Linked DNA regions of Homo sapiens: regions 2, 3 and 4 are each linked to region 1. Evidence: fine-mapped expression QTL. A gene starts in region 1. Each other region holds a variant in brackets. All regions are shown on one strand. Distances are between the middles of the regions. Region 1 holds the start of CD5 (CD5 molecule). Region 2 overlaps LOC105369325 (a long non-coding RNA gene). Region 3 overlaps LINC02954 (long intergenic non-protein coding RNA 2954). Region 4 overlaps LOC105369325 (a long non-coding RNA gene).

Region 1 (8,000 bases):
AACCTCCGCCTCCCAGGTTCAAGCGGTTCTCCTGCCTCAGCCTCCTGAGTAGCTGGCATTACAGGTGCGTGCCACCACTCCCGGCTAATTTTTGTATTTTTAGTAGAGATGAGGTTTCACCATGTTGGCCAGGCTGGTCTTGAACTTCTGACCTCAGGTGATCCACCCGTCTTGGCCTCCCGAAGTGCTGGGATTACAGGCATGAGCCACCATGCCCGGTCTTTGGTGCTTGTTTACTTGTGTTCTCTAACAGCTCTCCTGTTAGCTGATCAAATCCTTGAGGGCAGGGACTCCTGCCTTGGTCCCTGTATCCCCAGTGTTTTGCACAGAGCTGGATGCACAGGAGATGCTCAATAATATTTGTAGATGAAAAATGAATGAATTAGTGAATAAATAGCCTGTGCAAGAGGATTGAGGGGTAGAGAGATTGACGGCTGTGCAGGCCTCTGGCAAGACCCTCCTCCCCATTGGCTCCTACCTCGCATTGTTTCTTGCTGACCCTGGTAATAATAATAATCATAGTTGTTGCTGTTATTATTGTTTATTGAGTACTTACTATACTATATGCCAGGATTGTACTTAAGCTCTGTGTGCATTGATTCATTGAATCCTTATAAGCCTCTATGAGGTACTGTTGCACCCAGTTTACGGATGAGAAAACTGAGGCTTACAGAACTAGTCCAAGGTCGCCCAGTTGGTAAGTGGCAGACTGGAATTCAAACTGCAGAGTCCATGACTTTCCCACGTCCCAGTGCTGGCTTTCAGAGTCGCATCGGCTAGGCCAGTCAGGGACGTGCAGTTTGTGTTAGAGCCGCTTCCCCGCCTCACTGCCAGCAGCTGTCCAGGCAGGCTGGGGCTGAGAGGGGAGCAACTGTGGGAAGCCCTGGCCTGTCACTAGCACCCAGGCCTGCTGGGGGCATCTTCATGCCTCAGGATCCAAAGGTCCCCAAGCCCCGATGCCAGCCAGGAGGCTGTGGTGTCCCCAGGGCTCTGGCATTGCTGCCTCTCTCCTTGGAATGGCTCAAAGGGTGCCTGCACTGTTTGACTCCAGCAACCCTGGCCCTTGGTGTCCCCAGCTCTGGTGGCTGTATCTCTGCTGGTGGAGGTTGTGTCCCAGGGCCATTTTCCTGCACACGGAAGTGCCTTTGGTGGCCTTCCCTTTTAGCTAAGGGAGGGGCCTCTGTGAAGGCAGGAATGCTGGGCTGGGGTCAGCTCGGCTGTGCACCAGCTGCTGCACCCTGGGTTTGCACTCGGCCTTCCTGGGCCTCGCTTTTCCCCACTGTAAAATGGGGCCAATGGGCCCACCTACTTCATTGGCTGTTGTGAAGCTTGCAGCAGAAAATGGCTTTAAAAGTGCTTTGTAAACCGTTACCCACTGAACAAAGGGAATGCTTGGTACCCACCGGCTCACTCAGACACTGGGAACTGAGTATTCCTGGGGTTCAAGGAGGTCCCCATACTGGGGTGAAGGGGCTACCTCCAAGTCTTCCTGACTGTGGCCTGTGTTGGGCCAGGGGACTTGCCTGGTGCCATCAGGAGCCTCACCCATGATGGGATTCAGTTGGGAGGGCCCTAGAGCAGGACACGGGTTCCCATACTCAGCTGGGAGCCGCCCTATCTCAATGAAGTCTGAGGCCAGAGGTGAGGAGCAGGTGGGGGGTTTAAGGGCCTGGTCCCTCCTTAGCAGGGTCCCTGAAGCCAGCCAGAGGTCTGTCTCAGGCCTCTTACTTTGGGACAGAAGGCATTTTGTACCTGTTGTTGTTACATGTGAGAAGAACCATGTGAACATGTGTGCACAGGTGCCATTGTCACATGTGTTGGGGAGATAATCCTGCCTTTGGAGGCCGCATTGTGCTCATGAAAGCACACACACACAGTTCTCACACACATGCGCACAGACTCCCACACACAGACTCACACACAGACTCACACACAGACTCACACATTCCCCCCACACAGTACTCACACACATGCCCAGAGACTCACACACAGACTCACACACAGACTCACACATTCCCCCATACACAGTTCTCACACACATGAACACAGACTCACACACAGACTCACACGCACAGACTCACACTTTCCCCCCCACAAAATACTCACACACATGCCCAGAGACTCACACACAGAGTCACACATTCCCCCCCCACACACAGTACTCACACACATGCCCAGAGACTCACACACAGACTCACACACAGACTCACACATTCCCCCCCACACAGTACTCACACACATGCCCAGAGACTCACACACAGACTCACACATTCCCCCCCAGACAGTACTCACACACATGCCCAGAGACTCACACACAGACTCACACACAGACTCACACATTCCCCTACACACAGTACTCACACACATGCCCAGAGACTCACACACAGACTCACACACAGAGTCACACATTACCCCCCAACACAGTTCTCACACACGTACACACAGACTCACACAGACACACATAGACTCACACATTCCCCCACACACAGTTCTCACACACATGCACACAGACACACACACATGCATTCCCCCACACTCACACCTGCACACCCGGTTTCCCTAGAAGGCTGCTGAGGCTCCCTGCTCAGGCAGGCAAGGCCTCCGGACCCTCTCCCTGCCAGCCTGGAAGCTGCTCGCATCCTCCTGTTTCCAGCCCAGAGTCACGCACCTCTGTCACCCTGCCAGACCTTCTAAATCCTCAGGAAGTGGGTCAGGCCTCATCCAGTTCACACCCCCAACCCCCACATTTCATAAATGGGGAGATCAAGGCCTGGAGAGGCTTGGGGACCTATCCGAGGTCACACAGGGTTGGGCTTACAACCCAGGGCTGGAGTGAGAGCAGGCCCAGCGTGTACTCATCCCAGCCGGCCTGGCTGGGCCCCTCTGGGACTGACCCAGGACTGGGCATGAGAGGGCCTAGGACTTCCGCTATGAGTCCTTGACATTTGCTCAGACATCGTCCTCAGAGGCGGCTCCACCCTGCCTCGGCCCACTGTCTGTCCAGAGCATCATCAGAGCTGCCTCGGAGACGGCGAGTTTCCATGTCTCTGGAGGCGACCAAGTAAAGGCTGGGCTGTCAGTGGGGGACCTCGCAGAGGGAGGCCTGAATGCTCTGCTAAAATCCAACTCAGCCTAGGAATCAAGTTGTCTGGGCCCCATCAAATGCGGGTCCCCCCTGCAGTCTCTCTTGCACTGGAAGGGTAAAGCAGGGTTCTCAACAGCGCATGAGAGAGGCAAGGTTGTGCTCCTGGCGGGTGGGACATGCAGGACAGAGGGCCAAGCTGCGGCTTAGTGGGGGCAGGCAGGGATCCCAGTGGCCCCAAATCTCCACAACGCTCCAGAGGGCTGACATGTGGATCCCAGAGTCAGCCTTGGGTAAAACTGGGAACTCCTTCCTTGCACTGGAGCGAGCCCGGGTGTTCGCAGGACACCTGGGAGGGGTACTCACCCAGCATCCCCAGCAGGTACAAGGTGGCCAGCGGTTGCAGAGACCCCATGGGCATGGTTTCTGGCCTTCTCTTGCCTCAGCCTGGGCAGCTGGGCACCGCAGGTGAGGGTGTCTGGCCGGGTATCTCGCTCTCAGAGAGGGAGAGGGCGGGGTGGCGTGCTCAGGGAGGGGTGGGACGGGGAGCAGGCAGTGTGGGGCCTGCGTCACCCATGTTTGAAGTTGAACTGTCAACTTCCTCCTGGCAAAACCACCTGCCCCTGTTTGAATGGCAGCCCTGGCCTCTGCCAGCTTCCTGCCCAAGGTACCCAGGGCTGGGGCAGTGCTCTCGGCCACCCCCACACAGGACAAGGCCATGCATCCTGGAGGGACAGGGCTGCAGGGGGTGGGGACCCTGAGCGGGGGTTACGGAGGCTGAAGGCCTGGCTGCAGCTGAGGGCTGGGCTGAGGACAGGCGTCCCTGAGGCAGGGGTCTGGGTGGGGAGAGGCGGGAAATGGGCAGCATGATGCCAGTTCTTGTTGCAGACTCCAGTGAAAGCCAAAACCAAACCCTCCATTCCCCCTTTGTGAGGGATGAGGTTGGAAGTTTGAGCTGACTTTCCACAGGTGGTGTTTTGCTAGCAAGTACAAGAGATGGCTGCGCCATGAATGCTGGGCTTGTGCCAGTGTGTGTGTGTGTGTGTGTGTGTGTGTGTGTGTGTGTGTGTAGAGAGAGAGAGATCTCCATGTTGACTTGTGTGATCTCTGTGTTGTGTGTGTCATCTCTGTGTTGTGTGATCTCCATGTTGAGGTGTATGTGTGAGCTCCATGTTGAGTGTGTGTGATCTCCATGTTGATGTGTGTGTGAACTCCATGTTGATGTGTGTGTAATCTCCATGTTGACGTGTGTGATTTCTGTGTTGTGTGTGATCTCCATGTTGATGTGTGTGATTGTGATCGCCATGTTGATGTGTGTGTGATCTCCATGTTGATGTGTGTGTGTGATCTCCATGTTGATATGTGTGTGTGATTTCCATGTTGTGTGTTTGTGATTTCCATGTTGATGTGTGTGTATGATCTCCATGTTGACTTGTGTGATCTCTGTGTTGTGTGTGTGATCTCCATGTTGGGGTTGATGTGTGTGTAATCCCCATTTGATATATGTGTGTGTGATCTCCATGTTTGTGTGTGTGAATGTGATCTCCATGTTGATGTGTGTGAATGTGATCTCCATGTTGACGTGTGTGTGTGATCTCCATGTTGATGTGTGTGTGTGATCTCCATGTTGATGTGTGTGAATGTGATCTCCATGTTGATGTGTGTGTAATCTCCATGTTGATGTGTGTGTGTGATCTCCATGTTGATGTGTGTTTGTGATCTCCATGTTGATGTGTGTGAATGTGATCTCCATGTTGATGTGTGTGTGATCTCCATGTTGATGTGTGTGTGTGATCTCCATGTGGATGAGTGTGTGATCTCCATGTTGATGTGTGTGTAATCTCCATGTTGATGTGTGTGTGTGATCTCCATGTTGTGTGTGTGTGATCTCCATGTTGATGTGTGCGAATGTGATCTCCATGTTGATGTGTGTGTAATCTCCATGTTGATGTGTGTGTGTGATCTCCATGTTGATGTGTGTGTGTGATCTCCATGTTGATGTGTGTGAATGTGATCTCCATGTTGATGTGTGTGTAATCTCCATGTTGATGTGTGTGTGTGATCTCCATGTTGATGTGTGTGTGATCTCCATGTTGATGTGTGTGTGATCTCCATGTTGATGTGTGTGAATGTGATCTCCATGTTGATGTGTGTGTAATCTCCATGTTGATGTGTGTGTGTGATCTCCATGTTGATGTGTGTTTGTGATCTCCATGTTGATGTGTGTGAATGTGATCTCCATGTTGATGTGTGTGTGTGATCTCCATGTTGATGTGTGTTTGTGATCTCCATGTTGATGTGTGTGAATGTGATCTCCATGTTGATGTGTGTGTAATCTCCATGTTGATGTGTGTGTGTGATCTCCATGTTGTGTGTGTGATCTCCATGTTGATGTGTGTGTGATCTCCATGTTGATGTGTGTGTGTGATCTCCATGTTTATGTGTGTGAATGTGATCTCCATGTTGATATGTGTGAATGTGATCTCCATGTTGTGTGTGTAATCTCCATGTTGATGTGTGTGTGTAATCTCCATGTTGTGTGTGTGTGATCTCCATGTTGATGTGTGTGAATGTGATCTCCATGTTGATGTGTGTGTGTGATCTCCATGTTGATGTGTGTGAGTGATCTCCATGTTGATGTGTGTGTGTGATCTCCATGTCGTGTGTGTGTGATCTCCATGTTGATGTATGTGTGATCTCCATGTTGATGTGTGTGTGATCTCCATGTTGATGTGTGTGTGTGATCTCCATGTTGTGTGTGTGTGATCTCCATGTTGATGTGTGTGTGATCTCCATGTTGATGTGTGTGTGTAATCTCCATGTTGTGTGTGTGTGATCTCCATGTTGATGTGTGTGAATGTGATCTCCATGTTGATGTGTGTGTGATCTCCATGTTGATGTGTGTGAGTGATCTCCATGTTGATGTGTGTGTGTGATCTCCATGTCGTGTGTGTGTGATCTCCATGTTGATGTGTGTGTGTGATCTCCATGTTGATGTGTGTGAATGTGATCTCCATGTTGACGAGTGTGTGTGATCTCCATGTTGATGTGTGTGTGATCTCCATGTTGATGTGTGTGTGATCTCCATGTTGATGTGTGTGTATGATCTCCATGTTGACATGTGTGATCTCTGTGCTGTGTGTGTGATCTCCATGTTGGGGTTGATGTGTGTGTAATCCCCATTTGATATATGTGTGTGTGATCTCCATGTTTGTGTTGTGAATGTGATCTCCATGTAGATGTGTGTGAATGTGATCTCCATGTTGATGTGTGTGTAATCTCCATGTTGATGTGTGAATTTGATCTCCATGTTGATGTGTGTTTGTGATCTCCATGTTGATGTGTGTGAATGTGATCTCCATGTTGATGTGTGTGAATGTGATCTCCATGTTGATATGTGTGAATCTCCATGTTGATGTGTGTGTGTGATCTCCATGTTGATGTGTGCGAATGTGATCTCCATGTTGATGTGTGTGTGTGATCTCCATGTTGATGTGTGTGTGATCTCCATGTTGATGTATGTGTAATCTCCATGTTGATGTGTGTGTGTGATCTCCATGTTGATGTGTGTGATTTCCATGTTGATGTGTGTGTGTGATTTCCATGTTGATGTGTGTGTGTGATCTCCATGTTGACTTGTGTGATCTCTGTGTTGTGGGTGTGATCTCCATGTTGGGGTGTATGTATGAGCTCCACGTTGATGTGTGTAATCCCCATTCGATATGTGTGTGTGATTTCCATGTTGATGTGTGTGATCTCCGTGTTGAGGTGTGTGATCTCCATGTTGATGTGGGGTATGTATGTGAGCTCCGTGTCCCTGTTGCTCTTAGAGGGTCTGGAATCATCCCCCTTGAAGAAGAGGCAGGGTCTCTGCAAAGAAGATGGGAAGCCCGGGGCAGGGGAAAGTCCCTGTGTTTCCCTGGGCTGGGCTGGGTTCCGTTTTTTCCTCACATCCTTTGTGCTCCCAGATGAGAAAGCTCCTGGCTCCTTGGGCTTCCTGTACTCTGGGCCACCCCAGGCAGGTAGGAAGTAGTTCAAGGACGTGATCACTGGTCCAGGTCCACTAGGGCCTGGGGCCTCCCCATCCCTGGGCTGGAGAGGCTGGCTCAGTGATGCCTCCACTTAGATTCCACTTAGACCTGTAGCAGGACAAGCCACAGACAAAACCCCTCAGACACCAAGTTAAAGAAAGAAGGGGTTTATTCAGCCGGGAGCATCAGCAAGACTCCTGTCTCAAGAGCTGAGCTCTCTGAGTGAGCAATTCCTGTCCCTTTTAAGGGCTCACAACTCTAAGGGAGTCTGCTTGAGAGGGTCATGATCGATTGAGCAAGCAGGGGGTACATGACTGGGGGCTGCATGCACTGATAATTAGAATGGAACAGAATAGGACAGGGATTTTCACAGTGCTTTTCTATAAAATGTCTGTAATCTATAGATAACATAACAGATTAGGTCAGGGGTCGATCTTTAACTACCAAGCCCAGGTGTGGTGCCGAGCAGATTTCATTTCTGCCTTTTAGTTTTTACTTCTTCTTTCTTTGGAGGCAGAAATTGGGCATAAGACAGTATGAGGGGTGGTCTCCTCCCTTATTCCCCTCTTTTGAGAATCTCACTCATGAGTGGGAGTTCTCACTTTCATTTTCACTACCATGTCTTCTTGCAAGACAGATCAATAGTGATTCACATAGTACACTTGGGCTGAAGCATTTTGGTGAACTAAGGTAGCGATGAAGCTTTTTATCATTTGAAGAAGTACAGGTAGCAAACAAGGGAGCAGTAAGCAGGTTCCTATTACTATTAAAACTCCTATTATAAGAGTTTTAAATCCTCCTAGTGCTGGGAACCATTTTCCAAACATGGCCCCAGGATCAAATTCATGCCACACTTGCACGGGCACATGTGCCAGTTTTGTCCTATC
Region 2 (8,000 bases), 22 kb after region 1:
TGTATGGTTTGGACACTCTTAATGCCTCTCTTGGAGCACTGCACTTTACAAAGCATTTGCACGGAAGCATCGCACTTCATGTCCCTGACAGCGCTGTCAAGCAGACAGGTGCCCCGTCCCCGCGCAATCAACGAGGAAACTGACTACGACATCCCCAGTGAAACAGAAACAGAGGCAGAGCCTGCACTTGCATCTCCGGATACTAAGTCCTTGGCTGTTTATACCTCGTTCCAGTTGCCTGGTAAATCCAGGGGAGATCTGAGGCCCTGGAGATCCTTTCTGTCCCCTTGCAGGGAACTTGTAGTCTGGGATTTGAGTCTCCCTCTGTGAAGGATTTAAAGGCAAAACAAGTCTCTGATGTTTTTGGAGTGGAAACCTGCTTTCCCTAGAGCCTCACTTTACTTCATCTGCAAAGCAGGGGAGGGTCCCTGCTCCCGGGCAGGGCAAGGGTTGTGGTCACCATTGTCAGTAACAACCCCTGCCTGTGTCTGCCTCGAGTCATCTTCACTGAGCATGGCACTTTCACATTCATCACTGAGATCAACCTGATCTTCATAACAACCGGAGGAGGAAGACAGCGAAGATGACATTTGCCCCATCTTTCAGAGAGGTGAAGCGCCCTGCCCATGATCACACAGCAAGTTAAGGAACCAACAGGGACCCAGGGCTCCTGATTCTCCCGCTGAGAGGATACCCTCCGCTCGATCAGGCGTTGTCCTCTACGAGGTCAACTTCTGTTAGGACATACCCAACTCTGAGGCCGTGGGGCCCTACACACAGGAGCATGGCGGTCCAGCAACGTTAGGGGGCTTCCCCAGGATGCTCAGCAAGAAGGGTTGGGCTGGTGGGAACCCACAGCTCCTGCGTCCTAACCTCTCTGCAGGACAGGGTGGGATGGCAGGGAGACTAGGTGATGAGGGTCAGCAGGGGGTCCCAGGACAGACTGGTTCTCAGGGCAGCCTCCCTGGCAGGGACAGGGGGTTAAAATGGGTTTCTAGAGCCCCTTTTTCTTTTCTGTCAATCACCAGCTGTGCAAGCTCCTCTGAAAGATGGGAATAACACTAGTACCTGCCTCATCAGATTGTCATGAAGATTAAATGGCGTGAGGTAGGTAGAGCAGAGGCCAGCATCTGGCAGGAACATTCACTACTCACCCACTTCCCCACGTGCTCTGCCAAGGAGGGCAGCTTGGGATGAGTGTGTGCCTAGGAACACAGGTCCCCTCCCGATATTCCTGAAGGGACGTGATTTGTAACTGTGAAAAACGCAATCCAACTGTCAGAAGCAGATGGCACCAGCCGGGTAATCTGTGACCTCGGAGTGTCGTTCCTTTGATTCTGTACCAAGACCACTCTGCCGCGTGTGTACCAGGCTGGAAAGTAAAGCGTGCCCCATGGCATACAAGCCACACCCTGCCTGTGGCCTTGCCCGGCAGGAAGGGGGCTGCAGGGGAGCCCCTTTACTGGGCTGTGTGTTTCTGTGGGGGCTGGATCCTGCCCTCCAGGGGGCCACTCTCAGTGCCTGCTCTCTGTGCCCCTGTGAGGTTTATCTGACCAGTGTGCAGGGCTGCCGAGGTCCCTGGATGAGACAGGCATTGGGCAGGAAGCCCCGGGCTTGATGCTGGGCAACACGCCCATGGGTGAGGTCTGGGTAGGGTGTGGGAAAGAGTGTGGGGGGCGGAAGGAAGCTGGACCTGGCCCTGCCTCCGCTCTCACCCTCAGCCAGGCCCTGCCAAGGCTTCCTCCCCCAGGAAGACCTCCTCGGTTCCCTCTCTGCATTGAGGTATGGCCTGCTCCTTCTTCCTCCATCTTTTCTGGAGTCTAAGCTCCCTTCTGACTTTCCCCTCTGACAAAGGGGTTAGATAGAAAAGTGAGAAGTCTCAAATTCTGTAATCCCGAGAGCCCATTCCTCTCCAGACCCCGCTAATACACAGTGCGGACAGAGCGTGTCCAGTCAGGTTCCAGGACAATTTCTGATACAGGATGTGTGGAGAAAATGGGTTACTTAAAGCGCAAATGAAGATTTCTCCTGTGGGGTCCAGAGCTTAGCTGAAGTCCTTCCAGCATCTGGATCCCAAAGAGGGAGGCTGCATGCTGGGGACAAGGGCTGATGTCGGGGATCAGAGAGGCTTCTCTATGTTGAGGTCCAGAGTCGGGCATGCCACGGAGCAGCCACCCCTGGAAATGGGATCTTTCAGCCCAAGAGACCCTCAAAGGCTTTGGGACAGAGAACTCCTTTTTTGAGGTCCTGTTATTCACTGCCCCCCAGTTGTGAGTGAATCTAAAGGGAGGCCTGTGGGGCCCAGCTAATGAGCTCCCTTTCTTCTGGCCAGAGTTTGGGAATCCCAGGGAGCGGGGAGGAGGTTCTACTCCCAGCTTCTCAAGGTAGCCAGAACGACACGTGGGCCCCAGAGCTGGGGACAGAGCTCCCTCTCCAGGCACTTCATTGAGAGCTACTGGGGCTCTAGTCTGGTTTCTGGCTCCTCTGAGGGTGCCCCTGGCATAGGAAGTTGTCTAGGGGCACACTGAGCCCTGGGTGGAACAGGCGTCCTGACCTTGGGATCCATGTTTGTCCTTCAGTGTTCCACAAGCTGCCTGACACCATGGGTGGTCATTTGTGTGTTTTTCTGGGGAGAAGGCCCGCACCTTTAGTCTGCACCTCAGTGCCTCCCATGCCCCTAAAAAAGGCTCTATGCTGGGCTCATGCCTGTAATCTCAACACTTTGGGAGGCTGAGGCAGGCGGATCGCGAGGTCAGGAGATCGAGACCATCCTGGCTGTGGTGAAACCCTGTCTCCACTAAAAATACAAAAATTAGCTGGGCATGGTGGTGAGCGCCTGTAGTCCCAGCTACTCGTGAGGCTGAGGCAGGAGAATGGCGTGAACCTGGGAGGTGAAGTTGCAGTGAGCCAAGATTGCGCCACTGCACTCCAGCATGGCAACAGAGCGAGACTCCGTCTCAAAAGAAAAAAAAAAAAAAGAAAAAGAAAAAAAGAAAAGAAAAGGAAAAAAAAAGGCTCTAGAAGCTCTGGTGCAGTACAAGGCGGGTCTGCCTGGAAGTGTGGTTTCATATTTTGTTGGTTTGCCAGGTTTAGCTGCAGAGAATGCAAGTTCTCCCCACTTCGGAGACCGCGGCTTGGTGACCTGGGGTTTGTGCTTTGTGTCTTCATTGCTGAGCTCCTTGTGCAGTT[A/G]CTTGTTCTGCTAGAGATTATAGCATTTCTTTCGTCTTCCCAGCTCCTGCAATGAGGTGAGGATGCCTCTGTTCTGAGGAGCCTCAGGTAGGGTGCTGGGGCTTGTTTGATTCAATAGTTGGAGCTGAAATGAATCCGTTATATAGAGAAGAAAGCTGAGTCCCCCCAGGGTCAAGTGACTGACACAGGCCCACATAGCTGGTCCAGACTTAAGGTTCTGGATCCCGGGTCCTTTCATCCTGTTATTCCTCAACCTTCCCTGTTGCTGTGGGAACAACAGAAGGGGCCAGAGAGGGTTAATTCTAGTAATTTTCATGCAGCAGCCGTGTAACCTACTGCACACTGCCATCCTACAAGCATGGGTTCTTGTCCGTGCATTATAGCTGTGGCCCAGAGTGGATGGTTCTGTTGTCTGACCCCAGAGTCCCTGAGTGTCCCACAAAACTATCCTGTTCCTTTGGATTTTCCTGATCTCTTTTTGCATCACCACAGGCTTCTTTGACTCCAGGAACAGCCCATTCATGTCAACCAAAATTCTAAATTCAGCACCTCAGAAGTATGACCAGCAAAACCGATCTGACACTAAGTCCCACTGGCCCCCTACTTTTAGTGGACAAAAAGGCCTCACAGGCTTCGTCTCTCCCAGGAATTTGAGGAGTTCAGAGATGAGGAGAGGGGATTGGACACAGCAAAGCCTGGCCTGGCAGAGAGGGGGGTGGGCGAGCCTCACCCTGAGAAGGTGTTTCTTCCTCCTTATGGCCGTGGTCCTTTTTGATGTTAGATGCTTTTGTTTCCCAGGTGTATGGGGACCTGGGACCTGTGGGTTTTGGAGTGCTTGTCATGACTAGGCCCAGCTTTGGGGACAGGGTGGGGACGACTACTCCCAGGTTCTCAAGAGGAAAAAACTTCTGTACATTTCAGAAATGCAATAGATCTGTTATCAGCTCTACGCACTGCAAAACGCAAGTTCCTTTCTTATTTGATCTGACAGTGAAAAAATTCACAGATGTTTTATTGGAAGGTTAGAAAATAAAAAAGAACCCTTTCTCAGTCCAGGTAGTCTGCCCCCCATCACCTTGGCGTGTCTGCGGCTGTGCTGGGCCTGGGCTTGTGCGTGGATGAGGAGACAAGGCTCAGAGTGGAGCAGGGGGAGGCTCGGAGGCCTTTGCTTTGCAGCCCCACCCGCAGGCTCAGCAGGGTGGGCCCCTGTGCTAACACTCACCCCCACCCTGCCCCTCAGTTCTTGTTTCCATCTACCTTCGTCCCTCTCACCAGTCCCAACGCAGAGGGCCAGGTTTTCTTTAGTTTTCTTAACTACGTCTTTTCTTCTGGTTGGGAAAAATAATATTTACTACCTCTTGTACAGTTTGGAAATACATAAAATATGTAGAAAAAAATTAAATGTGGCTGGACGTGGTGGCTTGTGCCTGTAATCCCAGCACTTTGGGAGGCCAAGGCAGGCAGTTCACCTGGCTGTTGGTCAGGAGTTCGAGACCAGCCTGGTCAACATAATGAAACCACGTCTCTACTAAAAATACAAAAACTAGCCAGGTGTGGTGGCGGGTGCCTGTAGTCCCAACTACTCAGGAGGCTGAGGCAGGAGAATCGCTTGAACCCAGGAGATGGAGGTTGCAGTGAGCCGAGATCACGCCATTGCACTCCAGCCTGGGTGACAGAGTGAGACTCTGTCTCAAGAAAGAAAAAAAATTAAATCAGCTCAGAATCCCACAAGGCAGAGGTCTCCCCAGTAACCACCAGCTGCAGAGGCTGTGTGCCTCAGTTGCGTGCCAGCTGATGACCTCCTCAGCACAACCAGTTAAACCTTTATTTATTTCAGCTTTTCTCTATCTTTATAAAGCTTTTCCCCCCTTCATTGTGAAGATAGCATGCTCATTGGAGACAATTTGGAAAGCACAGAAAGATATTTTCATGCTTCTTTAAGCAAAGAGAGGAAATTTATTCCCATCTCCCCAAACTGCCATCAGCAGTTTGGAGTAGCTCCTGGTCTTTGTGGACTTTTGAAAAAGCACATGTTGTCTGGGCGCAGTGGCTCATGCCTGTAATCCTAGCACTTTGGGAGGCCGAGGCGGGTGAATCACAAGGTCAGGAGATCGAGACCATCTTGGCCAGCATGGTGAAACCCCGTCTCTACTAAAGACACAAAAATTAGCCGGTCGCAGTGGCGTGCGCCTGTAGTCCCAGCTACTCTGGAGGCTGAGGCAGGAGAATCACTTGAACCCAGGAGGCGGAGGCTGCAGTGAGCCAAGATCATACCACTGCACTCCAGCCTGGGCAATAGAGCAAGACTCTGGCTCAAAAAAAAAAAAAAAAAAAAGCATATTTTTTCCAGTTGAGAGCATGTTCTATAGAAGATTCTGGGTCCTGGTTTGTCACGCGACAACAGAGTAACATAAGCATTTCCCATGTTAATACAAACAGCAGTCCTCACGTATGTTCTGGGCTCATGTGCACAGACTCTACCCAGCACTGTGCAGGCACCATCTTGCTCAGTTCTTGAGAAACCTTATGAGGCAGGTGTGGTTATTAATTTTGCAGACAAGGAAGCCGAGCTGACCTCATCTGAGGTCTGAGAGCCAGGGAGCAACAGGGGATTGGCGTCGAAGGCTCAGCCAGCTTAGATCCCTGCTCTTAATCACTAGGTTATCTCTCCTGTGAATTTTTAGTGACCTTTCTAGTTTTGTATAAAACCAGAAAATGACCTTTGTTAAAAATTCAGGAATTACTGAACAGCATAAAGAATATTCAGAATCCTATCACCCAGTGATATTTATTCTGGCAATTGGCAGTTTCTTGTGCATAGTCTTCATATTTTTATAGTTGATGTTATCCTAACCTTTCAGTTTCGAATGTGGTGTTTTTTAAATTTATTTTTGTATGTATTTCCCAAGTCATTAGTTCCTCTTGGCAAAACATAATGTTTATTGATGGTTTGTCCGTCCATTGAGTGGTCGGTCTTGATGGGTGTAATCACTTCCCTGAGGTTGGGCTTTCAGGCTGCGGCTCTCTGAAATAATAAATAATTTAGGAATCAATACGTTTCTGCACAAAATGGTTTGTGTATTTCTGACAATTTCTTTAGGCTGCGCATATTCCCAGGAACTGAATTGCTGGGTTGAGGGTTTTTACAGTTCTTAACTTATATTGCCAAATTATTTTCCAGATGGTCCGTAACTCTTTACTCTTCAATTAGCAATACCCTGTTTACTCCTAACTAGATGAATATGTGACCTTGTTTTAGTTTGCACTCCTTTTATTTCTAATGAAGCTGAATTTCTAAATGTGTTTATTGGTCACTGGTGAGTCTTCTTTTGCGCACTGTCTAAAGCAGTGCTTTCCAATCAAGCTTTCTGCAATGATAGAAATGGCCTGTATCTTCCTGTTTAATAGGGTCCACGTGGCCTATATCTGCCTGTCCAGCAGCAACCAGCCAAATGTGTCCATTGAGTACTTGAAATATGGCTAGATAACTGAGTAAAATTTAAATTTAATTTTATTTAAATTTAGACTTAATTTACCTAAGGTTTTAATTTAAACTTGATTTTAATTTAATTTACCTAAGATTTTAATTTAAATCCTAAATTAATTTAAATTTAAATAGCCACATGTGGCTAGTGGCTACTATATTGGATAGCACACTCCTAAGCCTTTCCCCAGTTAGGCATTTGGGTCTCAGTGGGTGATTTATATTGATTTGTATGAGCTCTTTATTTATGATGGCTACTAATCTTTTTTATGTTTGTTGCAAAGATTTTACCCCACTTGCTATTTGACCTTTTTTGTTCAGGTTGTTTACAGGGTATCAAAATGTTAGGTAGCCAAATCTAGTGATCTTTTTTTTGTGGTTTCTCCCATAGCTTTAGGGTTAGAAAGTCCTCCCCCACACAGAGGTTTGATAAATACTCTCATCAACTTTTTTCAAGTCTTTCTGTGATTTTTTTTTCCTTTAGCTCTTTAATCCACCCAGAGTTAATTTTGCTGTGTGCTATGAGGTACAGCGTGTCTTAGTCACCTCTCTGCTTGGTGCAGAATATGTACCGAGTATATTTTATCTTAGATGGGACAGTTGGGTGCTCTGCTGGTTGGGTTTGGGTGGGTGGTAGGTAAGCAGGATGAAATTAGATAGTAAGTAAACTACTGCTATTTAAAATATTGATCTCTTTTTAAATTTTGTTGTTTATGAAGACTTTAATGACAAAAGAAAATGAATCTGATACAGTGTTGTTTTCAAAGAGAGATGCAAAATCACACCTACAATGTAATATGAACCATGTTTATAAACGCAATTAAAATATTGGAAGAAATATCCCAAAATACTAATGGTAATTGTCTCTGGGGGGTTGGTATTTTTTTTCCTGCTTCTTAACAATTCTATACTTCCCCAGTTGACTACAGTAGTTTTGATTATCTGAAATATTATTAAATACAGCATTTGGAGAAACAATGCATGATCACTTCCTACCTCTAACTCCCCACAGCCGTCATCCACCAAGTCTGCAATTCGCACAGCCACGCTCTGTGCTTAGGGCAGGCGAGTTGGCAGGGAAGGGTCCTCCCTGGCTTTCAGTTCAGGCTGGGACTGGAATTCCTTTGTAGTCACTCACAGCATGTGAGTTTCTTGGGCAAGTGATAGAACTCAGGACTGTTTCCTCATTCCTAAAATAAATATTGTAACAGCTTTGCACAGGGCCAGTGAGGATATGTTTCTTTGTTAATTATATAGGCGTGTGCACACACACACACACACACACACACAGTATATGTATGTGCAAAACTGCAGATATCATCAAGAC
Region 3 (8,000 bases), 41 kb after region 1:
GCACCCCAGGCACACACCACCATGTCCAGCTAATTATTATTATTATTATTTTTTTTTGTAGAGACGGGGTCTCGCTATGTTGCCCAGGTTGGTCTCAAACTCCTCGGCTCAAGCAGTTCTCCTGCCTTGGCCTCCCAAAGTACTGGGATTACAGGTATGAGCCACAGTGTCCGGCCATAATCAGTGTTTCATACCATCAGATCTGGTACATGGATTGAAACCTGTTTGCTAATTCCAGTCTACATGGAGCCAACCACTATGAAAACCTGGAAACTTGGTTGGGTTTTTTAGCTTTTATCTTGGTCTCTGGCTTGATTGAATGTAGATGCTCATGGGGTAGAATCTGAGCGCTCAAGACACGACCACCCAGTGCCTCCTGAAATATCACTGTTAGTCACTCCTTAGGGTGCCCTTTCAAAGTAGGAAATGCGGGAATCTTTTTGAATAGCACCTTCGTGTGGATTTTATAGCCTAAGAAAGGGTCCTGGGATAGCAGCAGAGCTGGGAAACTTTGGGAAGGGAGAGAAGGAAAGATGGAGGGCTCGACCCTCTCTGCAGACTTCCAGCCGGGGGACCAGCCCTGGATTGAAAAACAGGCAAGTGGCCAGGCGCGGTGGCTCACACCTGTAATCCCAGCACTTTGGGAGGCCGAGGCAGGCAGATCACCTGAAGTCAGGAGTTTGAGGCCAGCCTAGCCAACATGGTAAAACCCTGTCTCTACTAAAACTACAAAAATTGGCTGGATGTGGTGGCACGTGCCTATAGTCCCAGCTACTCAGGAGGCTGAGGCTGGAGAATCACTTGAACCTGGGAGGCGAATGTTGCAGTGAGCAGAGATCACGCCACTGTACTCTAGCTTGGGCAATAGAACGAGACTCCGTCTCAAAAAAAAAAATATAGTAAAATAGGCAAGCAATGATGAAGAGGACACATAGCAACAGGGCCTCTCACATCCACAGGTCACTTCCCAGTGTACAAAGCGCTCTCATTTAAAAGATGAGGAGACAGACACAGAGAAGCTCAGCCAGGCATCAGTGCCACACAGCAAACAGGCAGAATTGTCAAATGTGACCCTAACACCCAAGACCTTTCCACAGCTGAGTGAAGTGTTGTCATAGATCTCCTAGTTGTCAAATTACTTTCCTGCTTTTTTTTTTTTTTTTTTGAGACAGAGTCTCGATCAGTTGCCCAGGCTAGAGTGCAGTGGCGTGATCTCGGCTCACTGCAACCTTCGCCTCCCGGATTCAAGCAATTCTCTTGACTCAGCCTCCCGAGTAGCTGGGACTACAGGCGCCCGCCATCATGCCTAGCTAATTTTTTATTTTTGTAGAGACAGGGTTTCACCATGTTGGCCAGGTGGTCTTGAACTCCTGACCTCAGGTGACCCGCCTGCCTCGGCCTCCCAAAGTGCTGGGATTACAGGCGTGAGCCACCACCGTGCCCCACCCTTTTCCTGCTTCTTTCCTGACCACACCATCAGCAGGTCTGTAACTGCTGCTTCTCTGCAGCGTCCCAGAACTAAGCACGTGAATGGCACACGTGAAATAGAAACATGATGTGTCTTTCTCACTCGTGGTCCATGGGGCTTGGCCCCATCTCCCCAACTGGAGGGAAGCTTCTCGTGGCACCATGATCTCGGGCTGTCCCCTCTGCCCACCTCCAGCCTTCCTAACAGTGCTCCATGGTTCAGTGTGGCTTCAAGTTGAAAACATGGTGGGCAGGAGAGGTTTTGGGGGCTGGGAGTAAAGTGAAGTGGTTGACCTGGCCACTGTTTTTTAAGCCTCTGCGACTGGTTTGGTTTAACACTGAAGTGGAATCTGTGTATTAAATGCTGTAATGCCTTAAAATTAACTCCCCCGAGAGCATCTGCCTAATTTTTCTCCTTTGGCTCTATGTAAGTTGCCTTGGCAGGGTCTCTGCGAATCTTAGTCTTCCATATGAAAAAGTACTGCTTGCTAAGTATAGCTTATATCCTGAGCCCCAGGGAGAAAATAGAGAAAAGATTTCCGGTAAAATCAACCTCCGTAGAAGTTCAGTAGAGGGACCTCTTCACACTTGCCCCGGTTCTGATCCTGCATGAACAGTACTTTATCCTCTCCTCCTCTTCCCTGCTGCAGTCTTATGCTCCATGCAGTCCCTCTTCCAGGGAGCTGCTGGACTCATCTCCACGCAGTAGGAGTCTGGCTGCATCACCACTGCCCTCCTCTTACTGGAAACGCTTCAGTCCAAGTTCTGTAGCTCTGTGCCCTGACTCTGCCCTGTCTCACACACACCAGGCAGGTCACGTTGGTGGATTAATGGGACTGGATGAAGGGGACATCAGGCAGTGGAAGTGGCTGTACGGAAACAGGGTGAAGGCTACACCCCATCTAAAGAGAACCAACCCAACTCTGATTATTGCCATGGAAGAATATGGCCTCCATGTTTCCAGATCCTGATTGTTCAACATAATTTTGGGAATCTGAGTTTTTATATGAAATAGCCTAATTTTCAAGCGTTGGTTTATATATATATCTTAAAACACTATATGGGCCATCAACAAAGCGTGTCTGTGGGCCACACACCCACATGTTGGGACCACTTTTGCCCTTTGCTGTGTGGCCCCAAGATGTTGGCAGCTCTCCATAAATGCCATGCCCTTTCCTCTCTGTGACTTTCTCCGTCCTGATCCCTACGCTGTCTTTGGCAGGTCAGCTTGTCCTCATATAGTGCTTGTAACAGCTATGTGACTTTGGGCCAGTTACTCACCATCCTGATGCCTCAGTTCCCTCCTCTATGAAGTGGGAATAAGGGTGACTGGGAAGAATACGTGAGTTAACAAATGCAAAGTGTTAGAAAACGCTGCACATATTGTTCATCAGTGTCATCATCGTCATCATCCTTATTATTGTCCTCCATCTAGTCTTGGCTGTCACCTCTGAGATGCCTGCCTAGACTCCTTGAAAGCAGGCTGTCCCCACCCCACCCCAATTCTGTAACACCCCAATCCCCACAGCCATCTCACTGCATTATCTGTTGGCTTCTCAGTACGCCCTGGACTGTGGGCACCTTGAGAGGAGGAATATCTTTCTGTCCATACACAACTTCGAACAAACACTTGGCCCAGAAGAGGCCTCCATAGAGGCTTACTAAGTGGATGCACCTTTCATGAATGGTGGTCTGGAAGCCTGATACCACTTGATATTTCCATCCAGATGTTATTGTTACCACCCAGGCCAAGAATGTGCTTCTTCTGGAGGCACAACAAGGTGGGGCTTGTCTGGCTGCACCACAGCATAATATCTATCCCTCCTCACAGCTCTGCTCTCTGATGGAAGCAAGGAAACAGGAAGTGAAATTGACAGGCACTGACCAACCTGGTTTCACATCAGGGGTGAATGAAAAGGACGAGCCCCCCTCCCTAGGGTGGGGCGGGAGGGAGGTGGGAGTGGGGGTGGGGATGGGACATGAGTCATGATGTGTCACTGAGATTTTTTTGGATGCATTTTTCAGTTTCAAAAGCATGAGGCGTTATTACTATGGGTTGAGAACCTGGAGTGCCAAATGACTGTGTCCCAAACAGGATGGCGCAATTGGTGTCTGGTAAAGTACCTGGGAGTTTTCTTTGTTCCAAGTGGGGTTTGTGGCTCAGCACAGGGGCCTTACAGTGATGTTATGGTCCCCATACAGTAGCGATCCGGAAGATCTGTGCCCTGACTAATTCTTCTGCCCTTGAGCTGGTGTTTAAAAGAAAAAAAAAAACCCTCTGTGGTCGCAACCAAGATGTAATGATAGACTTTGAGCCCCGAGAGTCTCACCCAGCCTACTCCGGCACGTTTTGGGATGCTGCGAAACTGAATTGAGGTGCCTGTCATCATAAGAGAACTGAACGAGTGGGGGTAAGAATTAAGATCAGCAAGAGCTGTGTTTCTCGCTGGTTGTACAAACAGGCACTTGCCGGAAGCTGCCTCAGTGGGAACAAGGTGGAGCTTCATGAGGGCCCTGTTGAGTCTTTGCTGGGAATGATGGAGGTTTTTTCCATTTTCTCATTTTCCATTACTCTAATATGGTTATAACCTGGGACTTTTTGTGTGTGGGGT[C/T]CTGGAAGGATGTTTGTGATATTCAGGAGTTCTGGTGGGAGTCGGGTAGGGTGTGGATAGGGTGAACCTGAAACTTGCCCCAAATTTGTGTTCCATTCATCAATACCAATTACCCACCACATCTTTTAGCATTTATTCAAGAAATGCATGTTGTGGCTGGAAGAATATGGGATTTGGAGTCCACTGTGCCTGGTCTTTCCTGGACAACTGGGTTGGACAAATTCCTCTACCTCTCTGAGCCCCGTTTCTTCATCTTCAATAATGCGTTTGTGATGTAGAGCTTTTGGGAAATAATTAAAGGGATGATGTGCAGACAGGTCCAGACAGACTGACCACAAGGCTGGAGAAGGTCAGTCTTAGGACCCTCCCAAGGCCATTTATCTTTTTTTTTTTTTTTTTTTTGAGATGGAGTCTAGCTCTGTCGCCCAGGCTGGAGTGCAGTGGTATGGTCTTGGCTCATTGCAACCTCCGCCTCCCGGGTTCAAGAGATTCTTGTGCCTCAGCCTCCTGAATAGCTGGAATTATAGGCGTCTACCACCATGTCTGGCTTATTTTTGTATTTTTAGTAGAGACAGGGTTTCACCATGTTGGCCAGGCTGGTCTAAAACTCCTGACCTCAAGTGATTCACCCGCCTTGGCCTCCCAAAGTGCTGGGATTACAGGCACCCTTTATCTAATTTTATTTGTGTATTATCATATTTTTTAAAGAGGGACCCCCAAATTGTATAGGCTTCAGGCTCAACAGAACCTGGACCCAGCCTTGATCTTGTATCTTGAATAATGAAGAACTGGCTCTGGGAGTAAGTGCTGGAATCCTGGCTTCATCTGTCGATAGGGTCCCGCTATTGGCATGCTGTATTTGTTCACCTCATATGCAGTTGCTACGAAGAGCATTTACTTATTACCCCAAATGGGAATCACACCCCTGGGACCAGCCACCCTGTGTAGATAATAACTATGGATAATCCTTGCTAGAAAATAAAAGGTCCAAGGTGATATATATATATATATATATATATATATATTATTTTTTAATTTGCTTCAGTGGCAGAAACAGGAGTAGATGTGAAGGGCTTGGTCCTAGTTGAGAAGTTTCTCAACTGATAATGACGGTTAACATGTACATCAGCTACTACAGGATCTCACAGGTGGGGTTATCAATGGATAGGATGAGGATCTGTGAAGTGGGCAGGGCAGAGGTCATCATGATCCCCTTTTAGCAGATGTACAAACAGACCCAGAAAGGTCAAGGAGGTCATTGGAGGATGCACTGCCACGAAAGGCACAGCCAAGATTCAAATGCAAGTCATCAAAACTCCAAATGTAGTGCTCCTTCAAAGCGTACCACATTGCCTCTCCAAGAAGCTGAGCACAAGAAAGATGGCAGGGTGGAGCTGCTGACAAGTATTTGTTCTTTATGCAGAGTGACCCCATTTTAAGGCTGCCTACTGCGGTGGACGAGAGCAGAGTGGATGGTAGGGCTCTGTTTACTGAGCATTTCTGCCTGCTGGACTCTGTGCCCGGTGGAGCTCACGCAGCCCTCTCAATGCAGCCAGGTACACATCAGTCTCTCGGGTTTATGGAGGAGGAATCTGAGGCTCACACAGGTGGCAGAGGCTCTTTGCTTCCTCCACTCTCTTTCCTTAGTTGTCAGGGTTCGAGGTTAATCTGATGAGGTTGGCAACCTCAACTTGTGGAAAACCAAAACCCCAACTGAGTGTCTTTTATTCTTTCTTTCTTTCTTTTTTTTTATTAGAAGAAAGGGTCTCACTATGTTGCCCAGGCTGGCCTCGAACTCCTTGTCTGAAGCAATCCTCCCGCCTCAGTCTCCCAAAGTGCTTGGATTGCAGGCATGAGCCACTGCACCCGGCTGTGACGACCCTTTGATTCTGCGACTCTATTTCTCCTGACTGACTGTTGAATTAAGACTTTGGTATTGCGTAGGAGGAGATTTTCTTGTGTTTTGATTAATGTTGAACGTTACTCATCTAAGAGGTTAATGTGGAACATCCGTTGCAACTAATCTACCTATACACCTTCAGTCGGGGTACTTACCAGTGCTAGGAAGACTCCTAGGATGTCAGGATGAGAAGGGGCTTTCGAATGTGTCTATTCCAGGGGCTGCAAACCTAGGCACCTACAGGGGTCAGGCAGATGTCTATACCCTGTGATCAGGCCAGGCCAGGTACAAGCCAACAGGGTGTGGCAGGGCCGTGGCATTCAAATTCAAGAACGTCAACACTCTACTGACCGAACAAAACTTGTCATATAGAGAAAATGTGGCCCACCTGCTGTCAGTTTACAACTCAAATGCGGGCAGACCCCTTCATCACACCACCAGTTACTTTGCTGAGGTCCTGAGGGTGAAAGTAACTTGCCCGGCTGGGCGCGGTGGCTCACGCCTGTAATCCCAGCACTTTGGGAGGCCGAGGCGGGCAGATCACGAGGTCAGGAGATCGAGACCATCCTGGCTAACACGGTGAAACCCCGTCTCTACTAAAAATGCAAAAAAAATTAGCCGGGCATGGTGGTGGCGGGCGCCTGTAGTCCCAGCTACTTGGGAGGCTGAGGCAGGAGAATGGCATGAACCCAGGAGGCGGAGCTTGCAGTGAGCCGAGATCACGCTACTACACTCCAGCCTGGGTGACAGAGCGAGACTCCGTCTCAAAAAAAAAAAAAAAAAAAGAAAATAACTTGCCCAAGGTCAAGTTAGACCATGAATGAGTTCACCCAGTCTTGTTTGTTGTTGTAAATTAAAAAACAAAACAAAACACCTACATTTGGATGTAAGGTTTTATAGTTTAGTGTGGTCTCACAAATTATTTTAGTGGGTGCTCATGATATCTTCACTTTAAATATAAGGAGATCGAGGTTCCGAGAGTTTAGCTAACTTCAACTCCATGTTGGGTGACCCCATATCCTGCTTGCCTGGGACAGTCCTGACCAACACTGTCCTATCATCATTATTAATAGCTTAAAAGCCTCTTTTACTCTTCAAAGTGTCCTGCTTGGGGGATAAATCACAGGCCACACTATGGGCCTCAGCCCAAACCATAGGCGGGACTCAGCCGTTTTCCTGGCCTCCTGAGGCAACACGCCTAGTGCACGGCTGTGCAGCTCCGACTCCTGATCTGAGACTCTTTCCTCCTGTGTCTTCTTGTGAGAAGGACGGCAAGGTAGGTGGAGCAGTGTGGCTGTAAAAAGGAGCGTGGACTGCGGTGTCCGTCTGACTTGAGTTCGAATCCTGGCCCTGCCACTTACCCGCCTGAGTTACTTAACCTCTCTGAGCGTCATTTTCCATGCCTGTGAAATGGAGGTAGTAACAACAGCTGCTTCATAGCCTTAGTTTGAGGATGCACTGAGAGAATGCACTCTTAGTGCTGTTGAGTGCTTGGAATCGGTTAACCTTGGGCCCCTGGGGGAAACGTCACATTCTAAAACATTTGAGGCAATCTGCAGCCTCTACCAGCACTGACACCTCCCTGAGGATGAGCAATGGCCTGACCAGCTCCCAGGGCAGGAAGCCGGGCCTCGGCCCACATGCTTGAGATGCTGGTGCCCGAGCCAGGCCTGTGGAACTCAGAGGGGTGGCACTGGGGATGTTTGTGACTCCTCGCTTGTTTCATGGAGGAGGTGGGTTTGGAGTTGAGTTTCTAGAGTGGGAAGGTGACAGGTGGGCTGAGGCGCACTCTGGGATCTGGGTAAGACCTGTTTCCCAGGAACTGCAGGGGCTGGTAAGGTACAGCCAGGGGGCTGGGGGTCAAGGAAGGCTGAGCCGGTGAGCCTGCCAGGGACACGGGGCGATGGGTGTTCTCCAGGTAATCCAGGGAGAAGCACCCGGACCCTAACCAAGCTGCAGCTCCATGGCAGAGGAGCCTGAAATCCAGCCTGGCTTCCTTTGGGGCTGTTCAGCATCTCCTG
Region 4 (8,000 bases), 77 kb after region 1:
TCCGCCTGCCTCGGCCTCCCAAAGTGCTGGGATTACAGGTGTGAGCCACCGCACCAGGCCTCTTTTACCTCTAAATGTGTCAGTACTCCAGTGTGTATTTCCTAAAAGCAAGACTATTTTATTACATAAGTATAGTACACTTTTCAAAATCAGGGAACTAACACTGATATAACCCTGTAGTCACTAGACCTCCTTCCTGTTTCACTGCCTGTCCTTGTAATGTCCTTTATGGCAAAAGAAAACGTCAGGTCATGCCTTGCCTTCACTCGGGATGCCTCTTTGACTCTTTTCATCTGAAACAGTTTTTGAGTCTTTGTATTCTATGACATTGGCATTTTTGAAAAGTACCTGCCAGATATTTTTTAAGATGTCTAAAAATTCCTTTTTAAATAAATTTAAGTTTTAAATAAGTGAGTCCACTTAAAGAAAAACTATCAAGTGACCCAAAGAACAAATGGTCTACAGATAAAGCAAAAACTGTGAAGATGTACATGGATTACAGTTTTGACAAATGTTGCCTTAAATCAACTTCCTTCTGCCCCTGGGGCTTCATCCCACTGGGATGGTCAGGCCTTGGGTCAGTGAGTTAAGAACAGTCAATAAAGTGGTGACACAAGGCTGTGCCAGCCTGTGTGCAGGGAGCTCACTCTCGGGGGCAGAGTCAGGGTTCTGGGCTCTCTGCCAGATACTAGTGAGGGGCTGGGAGGAAAGTGTGCTTTTGGGTGCGTGCAAGGTGCATACAAATCTCAAACATGTCTCAGTGAAAGAACAGGCAGGCCGGGCACAGTGACTCATGCCTGTAATCCCAGCACTATGGGAGGCTGAGGTGGGAGGATCGCTTGTGCCTAGGCATTTGAGAGTAACATGGTGAGACCTCGTGTCAAAAGAAAGAAAGAGAGAGAGAGGAGAGGAGGGAAGGAAGGAAGGAGAAAGAGAAAAAGAAAGAGAGAGAGAAAGAGAGCGAGATAAAGGAAGAAAAGAAAGAATGGAAAGAAAGAATTAGCTAGGAGTGGTGGCGTGTGCCTGTAGTCCCAGGTACTTGGGAGGCTGGGGTAGGAGGATTGATTGAGCTTGGGAGGTCAAGGCTGCAGTGAGCTATGATCATATCACTGCACTCCAGTCTGGGCAACAGGGCAAGACCCTGGCTCAGAAAAAAAAAAAGAAAAAGAAAGAAAGAACAAGCCATAAAATCAGGAAAGGAGAAGAGAGCTTGACAAAGCAGTAGGAAGACTTGAGTATGGGCAGAAGAGGTGAGTTTCCTGGAACAGGAAGGGAGGGAGGGGATCTTGGGGTTTTTACTGGGCAGAGCTCCAGGGTTAATGCTACTGCCATCACCCATGTACTTCAGAGGGGTCCCCACAGCCAGAGGGGCTTTGATGTTAGCAGGAGGACTTGGCTGCTTCCAGCCCTACACTAGCTATCCCCAGGGTAGGTGGCCTGGGGACGAAAGGCTGCGGTGGGTGGCCTTGCCTGGCCCTGGACCACAGAAGGGCTCTCTTACAGGATGGGTTGTTCTTGCTAGAGGGTGAGCGTGGGCATGAGCTGAGAGGGTCCTGCAGGGACAGACATGCGTCTGGGGCTGTACATCTCTAGCATGTACCGAGTCTCTCCTGCTGCACGCAGGATGCACCCACCTAGTCTTCAGGTTGCCAAGAAGGTGGGAGGACTGCAGGCAAGGGCAGCAAACGCAGAGCAGACTGCAGGAAGTCACGGCACCGGCCACAGAAGGGGGAAAAGAGGGTGACTATCGGAGTGATGCGATGAAGGGTATTGCTGTGTCTTGGCTATGCAGAAAAGTTGAGGGGGGCTACTGACCCCAGTTATTTTAGTATCTCATCCTCAGATAAGAAACAGCCTTCACCTGCCTTGAAACCAGGGCAGAGAGTGAGGCCTGGAGGGAGGGATGGTCACCCCAGAGGGGAGGCCATGGGAAGGAAGCGGAGCCCCATGGACCCAGTGCTGTTGTTTCTAGGGAGAGCCGTGTGTGTGACCTGGAGGCCATGGAGGGGAATGTGTCTGTGAGTGTCTGGACGAGGATCATTTTGTCTCCCCACTGTGTGGAAGAATGAAGAGGAGGCAGTGATTGTGGGCCTGGTCGGGCTAAGCGTAGGGAGGGGAGGCAGGAGACCTCGCAGGTAGAGGGACTCTTTGTGAGCAGGGGGCTTGAAGGAAAATGAATCTCAGCCAGAGCCCATGGCCCTGGGGACCACTCCCTCCCCTCCCCCTCCTTCTGCACTTGGTGGGTGGCTGGGCAAGTGGGACGAGCTGGGGGAAGGGAGCCAGGGAGGGGGCACCTGCCCTCAGCCAGGATAGGGCCCGGGTCCTCTGCGGAGGGGGTGGGGGATCCTTCCCCAGGACAGAACGTGTCATGGTCTCCCGGCCTCCCACCCACCCTCTCCCCCTCCAGCCTATCACCTTTCCATCTTCTCTCCTCCCCGCCCTCCTGCTTGCCCCGTGGTAGCTGCACTGACTGGCTGTGAACCTGGCTCCCCTGGTCCTAGCTGGGTGACCTTGAACTAGTCCCATGACTTCTCTGGGCTTCACTTTTCCCACAGGGAAGGTAACAGACGTTAGGAGACCTTAAGGCTCTGGGAGGTTTTGAGAATTAAGTGAGGCCACAATGTAAGGGGTCCAGCAAGTGCGGGGTTCGGGGCCAGGGAAGACAAAGGCTTTGTCTGGCTGCTCCTGCCTTCCACTGTCTGCTCAGGCACACCGCTCCCTCCCTCTGTCTTCCTCTTTTCCTCTCTGTCTCATGACTCTCTCTCCCCACCCCCCGCCCCCCTCCTTTGTCTCCCTTTGTTGCTATTTCGGTCCTTCCTCAATGATGTTGGTGAGAGGTGAGCCTCTTTTCATGTCAGGATGCCAGAACTCCGTCAAACTGGTAAACAGCTGAAGGATGTGGCGGGAGATGAACTTTCCACTGAAGCTTCTTTCAACCCATCCCTTCCCTGGGGCTCCCCTGCACCTCCCCACTCTGGAGACTCCATCCCATCCTCACGAAGCGAGGACGGGGGGCCGGGGA[C/T]GGCGGCCAAGAGAGGTCCACGCCAGGTGGCCACACGGGCTCCAGCCGCTCTGTCCGTTCACCAGAACCATGAAGAGGGTCTTTGAGAGGGGCGGAAGTGGAAACCGCAGATGGGGCGATAGGGAGGGGTGGGGGATGGACAGGTGTACGTCGGAGGTGAGGTTTCCAGGGGACAAGGTTAGGGACCCGCAGGTGATGCCCTGCCAAGGAAGGAAAGCCAGTACCTGTGCTCCCTGGGAGCAGCCTCGGAGCCTGAGAGCCACATCCATGTGGGCCCTGGTGGGATAATCCTGCCAGAGCGTGCTCCTGACCTGGTCCCCTTGGGCTCTCTCAGATGTCTGGAGGATGCCAATTAATTGTGGGGCCTGAAGAGCTGTGTGTGGCTCCAGCTGGGCATTGGGAGGCACAGAAGTGAGCCTTTGGTGTGGATTGTACCTTCACATGGAAAGGAGGAGGGCAGGGGCAGTGGCAGCCAGGGCCCAGCCACACCATGTTCAGCTGATAGCCCTGGGAAAAACTGAACATTCTTGAGCCTGTTCCCTCAGTCATAAGATGGGGATGATGCTGGTTCTTCATGGGGCTGTTGAGAGCATACATGAGTCAGTACCTGCAGTGTGCTCAGAACAGTGCCCGACACACAGGTTCTGAGTGTGCCCTCAGGAATCGAAGCTATCATTAATGTCACCGTCATATTGTCATCATGGCTGGAGGCTGCTGTGTTGGAAAATCATCTCCCATGTCTGTGATCACTCTCCAAGTCCTGAATCCGTCTCCAACTCGTTCCCTCTTCTCCATCTCCCAGTGCTGACCACCCCCCAGCTGGCCTCCCTTCCTCCAGGCCCCAGCCCCATCAAACCTCCCTCCGCTTCATAGCGGCAACCTTTCTAGAGCATCCGTCTCATCGGATCACTTCCCTGCCTTAGAAACTGCTCGCAACTCCCAGCAGGTCTAAGACAATGACAAGGGTCAAGTTACACAAGACCCTTGGAGATGCTCCCCATGGTCTTTCCCACCTGCGCACCCCCTTTTCCCCTGGCCTTCAGGCGGCATGCACCATACTTGCACGTGTTGCTACTGAGAACATCCTTCACTCATCCATCCAGCAAACTCCTACACAACCTTCAATGGCCGACTTGATTGTTCCCTCTTTTGTCATGCTTTTCCCACTAAACCCTGGCAGTTAGTGGCTTCTTCCTCTCTGTCCACACAGCCTCTGTAGTGGTGTGGTGGAGCCCTACATGAGGCAAAAGTTATCTGCTTGGACAGCATGTGGGAGAAACTCAAATATGGGTAGCATCACTCTTCCCTTAGGAACGTTATCTGGGATACCAGAGAAGTAAAAAGAAGCAAGGAGCCCAAGAGGGTGCCCGGACGTCATTTCTGTATAAGAAGGGGTAGGCAGCAAGAGGGGTTCACATCTGCTTCTTTCTACATCAGAGACACAATTGTGTTTACCTTGGGTGGGCCGGGTGGGGAGGAAGGGGCAGGGTGGAGGGGGCAAGATTTTAATGGTATGAATTCATGTTGTTGGAGTTTTAATACGGTTAAGGTATTTCCCATTTTAAAAAAAGAAAGGGCTGGGCCCAGTGGCTCATGCCTATAATCCCAGCACTTTCGGAGGCTGAGGCAGGACGATCACTTGAGGTCAGGAGTTCAAGACTAGCCTGGCCAACATGACGAAACCCCATCTCCACTAAAAATACAAAAATTAGCTGGGCGTGGTGATGTGTGCCTGTAATCCCAGCTACTCGGGAGGCAGAGGCAGGAGAATTGCTTGAACCTGGGAGGCGGAGGTTGCAGTGAGATGAGACTCTGCCACTGCACTCCAGCCTGGGTGACAGAGAAAGACTCCATCCCAAAAAAAAAAAGAAAAGAAAAAAAAAAAGAAAAGAGAGAGAAAGAGAAGGAAGGGAGGAAGGAAGGAAAGAAGAAGGAAGGAAGGGATGGAGGGAGGGAGGGTAGGGAAGGAGGGAGGGAGGGAGGGAGGGAAGGAGGGAGAAAGGGAGGGAGGAGGGCAGACAGGGAGGGAGGGAGTGAGGGAAAGGAAAGAACACTCCCTTAGGAAGACGCCTGCATGTGAGTCTGCCCTGCTCTGGCTCCAAACCAGGTGTTTTCCCTGCAGCATTAGAGCAGCTCGTTGAAATGGTGGGCTTTGTTTCAGGCCCACCGTGTATGAAAAATGAATCCCCAACAGCTAAAATCTCACCCAGCATGGCAAGGTACCCACAGGATGAACGGCTTCCAGGATCTGAGGGAACGGAGGCTCCACAGCTCCTGTCTGTCTCCTCCTGGGTGTTTGTTCAACCAAGGGAAATATTGGGCTGGGTTGCCCCTTGTCTTTCTGTTTGCTGCTGAGCACACACTTAAGTTCATGTGGGTTAAACATGCTTATCATGAGCCCTCGCTGTGCGGCGTGGTGTTTTCACACTGGGGCTTTGCAGTGAGGTGGAAAAGTTGTGCTACCTGCCAAGCTGTGTGGCTTCTGGCTAGTCATCTAATCTCTCGGGGTTTCAGTTGCCCTATTTACGAATTAGGGAGAATAATACCTTCTCAGAGTGCCCTTATGAGGATTGTATGAAACAACACATACCTGGCACATAGTAAATGCTACCCACCGTCATCATCACCATGTTGATGAACGGCAGTTACTGGTCTCTCTCTGCCCCAGGTCCTGTAAACTCCCCAGCGGCAAGGGCCAGGCTCCATTCCTTTCTGTGCCTCCCAGAGCTCAGCACAGAGCTGGCTCTATAAGGGTGCCTGGTAGTGATGATTCTACATTCCCGAACCCCGTATCCCAGAATGCAGCCGGTGCCTGTGCTGTTGGTGGGCAGATAGGCCGGTGTCTCCAGATTCTAGGCTGGGGCTCTGGTAATAATGCCCAGCCGTGTGGCTGTGGTGGCACAGGGACACTGGAAGAGCCATGATTAACACTCAGACTCTGAAGCTAGGCTGTATTTAAGTCCCAGCACTGTCATTATTTAGCTGTGTGACCTTGGCTTTTTACTTAACCTCTCTGGGCCTCAATTTTCTCACCCATGAAATGGGGTTGGTGTGAGACTTGACCATCCCCAGCCTCATCTCCTCTCAAACTGGACCTCCCTTGACCTCGCGAGCCGTGCAGTTTCTTGCTGTGTCTTCGCTCGTGTCATTCCCTTGGCCTGGAATGCTTTTCCCTCTCCACGTCGGTGGTTCACTCCTATTCATCCTCTACAACCCAGATCAGGCATCAGCTTCCCAGGAATTCCCTGTGCATCACTCTCTGCCTGAGCTTGCAGAGCTGTCAGTCAAATTGCTGGGTGCTTCCGTTCTGGGACACAGCCTTTCCCCCCACGCCAATGTTTCTGGAACCACTGGGTTCCGCTGCCAAGTCCATTGAGCCTCTTTGTGTTTCCTGTCCCAGATCCTTGAGGCGTATTATAATGAGGTCTCCCAGGAGTGGAGGGGAAGCCACCTGCTTATGTTTGTGACTTCCCTGCCAGGCTGGTGCTCCTTCAGGTCAGAGCCTGGCTGTCATTCATCTCAGCTTTCCCAGTCTCAGCACAGGCCTGGCCCATGTCGGCTCAATAAGGTGCAGGTCCCAGGTCTGAGTCCCTGGGAGACATAGAGACAGGGGCCAGCTGGGATCAGCCCTCCTACTGTGTGTGGTGCTGTTTCTTCAGACTGCCCAGGGCTAGGGCAGAGCTTCCCAATTTCTCAGAGACTGTGGGGGGCCCTGGGTGGGAGAGCTGGGGTGAGAGAGGCAGCTCCGGGGAGGTTGGGGAAATGGGGGTGACTCAGAAGGCATTGCCATCTCCCTGTGTGAGCTGGGGCGGGCACGAGGTGGGGAAGGATTGAATTGTGACTCTGTTACTAACTCTCAGTGACCTTGGACAGGTCCTTTCCCACCCTAGGTCTCAGTGTCCTCACCTGTAAAATGAGAGTGGGACAAGACATTCTCCATGTTCCCCCAACCCTTGCCCCGCCCTGCCCCCAGCACTAACGCACTGAAGACCCCAGGCACTGCTGAGTGCCTCCTGGCTTCCCCTTTCTCCTTTTAAGGAGCGCTCTCACCTGCAGTGATTAATCTACCAATGACGGGGTCATTTACTACCAACCCTCTAACCCTCACCACCACCTGTGAGTTACCCACTACTGCCCACACATTCTACAGACCAACTTACAGCAAACAAAGTCTCAGAGATGTTGAGTGATTTGCCTGAGGCCACACTGCCAGGAGGGGTGGAGTGGGGAGTTGAACACAGGCTTTCACAAGCCCCCTGCCGCTGAGTCTGCCCCACCTACCCCAGAAGTGGCTCCTCCCCTAGGAATCCCCCGCCACCCTGGGGAGGGTTCAGAGGGCCCGAGGAGGGGGCCCAACACTGCCAACCACATCCTGTGACGGTTGCCCTGGGGAGCGCGGCTTTCTCTCCACCTCTGGGACAGGTGAATGGAAAGCAGGCCCCGCCCACCACACAGCCCCACCTCCTTCATGATCCGCCCCTCCCGAGACGGCTCGGAGAAAACCTGAGCCCCAACCCTCACCCCGCAGGCAGAGCTGGGCACTGGCCATGGCAGCAGGGATAAAGTCATAGCCCTGAATGGGCAGAGGACTGGAGGCAATGCCGATTTCTCAGTGCGGATCCGCTCCAGTCCCCTCCAGCGCCACCAGCCTCATCCCCACTTCCTTCTGGGGTGGTGCAATCCTTTTCCAGGCAACTCTAAGCATAAAACTCCCTGGAATTATACTACCTTTGAAGATTTGGGGGCTCAGGCGGGAACTCATTCAGTGCAGTAACCCCTGCCGCTGAGCCCAGGGCTGCTGTGGAGCAGCCCAGGGAGGCAGTGAGGTTGAGTTCTCATAGACCCTGCCTCTCAGTCTGTCAGGTTCTGTTTTCCTATCCCCAGTGTTAAAAAAATGTTTTTGAGATAGAGTCTCACTCTCACCCAGGCTGGAGTGCAGTGATGTGATCATTCATGGCTCACTGCAGCCTCAAATTCC

Evidence for each region. PIP is the estimated chance that this variant, and not a neighbour inherited with it, causes the effect.
Region 2: its variant is fine-mapped to the expression of CD5 in whole blood (TOPMed, PIP 0.94).
Region 3: its variant is fine-mapped to the expression of CD5 in whole blood (TOPMed, PIP above 0.99).
Region 4: its variant is fine-mapped to the expression of CD5 in whole blood (INTERVAL, PIP above 0.99).

What each region holds. Positions count from the first base shown.
Region 1 is chr11:61,098,064-61,106,063 of GRCh38, reverse strand. It overlaps CD5 (CD5 molecule), which reads right to left and starts at 3,575. Exons shown (of 11, transcript NM_014207.4): 1 at 3,449-3,575. The coding sequence starts at 3,503.
Region 2 is chr11:61,075,861-61,083,860 of GRCh38, reverse strand. The region is part of intron 1 of LOC105369325 (a long non-coding RNA gene); the gene reads left to right. LOC124902677 (a long non-coding RNA gene) reads right to left here. Exons shown (of 2, transcript XR_007062690.1): 1 at 7,670-8,000; 2 at 5,952-6,214. Among named protein-coding and RNA genes, the nearest start is that of CD5, 23 kb to the left of the region's middle. The variant A/G (reference allele first, on the strand shown) is at 3,190.
Region 3 is chr11:61,057,018-61,065,017 of GRCh38, reverse strand. LINC02954 (long intergenic non-protein coding RNA 2954) reads right to left here. Exons shown (of 4, transcript NR_186234.1): 3 at 3,143-3,307. All of the region lies in intron 1 of LOC105369325 (a long non-coding RNA gene), which reads left to right. Among named protein-coding and RNA genes, the nearest start is that of LINC02954, 5.6 kb to the right of the region's middle. RefSeq lists enhancers at 3,008-3,247, 3,598-3,837, 2,903-4,102, 7,788-8,000. The variant C/T (reference allele first, on the strand shown) is at 4,080.
Region 4 is chr11:61,021,273-61,029,272 of GRCh38, reverse strand. LOC105369325 (a long non-coding RNA gene) reads left to right here. Exons shown (of 2, transcript NR_188502.1): 2 at 1-410. Among named protein-coding and RNA genes, the nearest start is that of LINC02954, 30 kb to the left of the region's middle. RefSeq lists a silencer at 537-596 and enhancers at 2,525-3,090, 7,589-7,638. The variant C/T (reference allele first, on the strand shown) is at 3,023.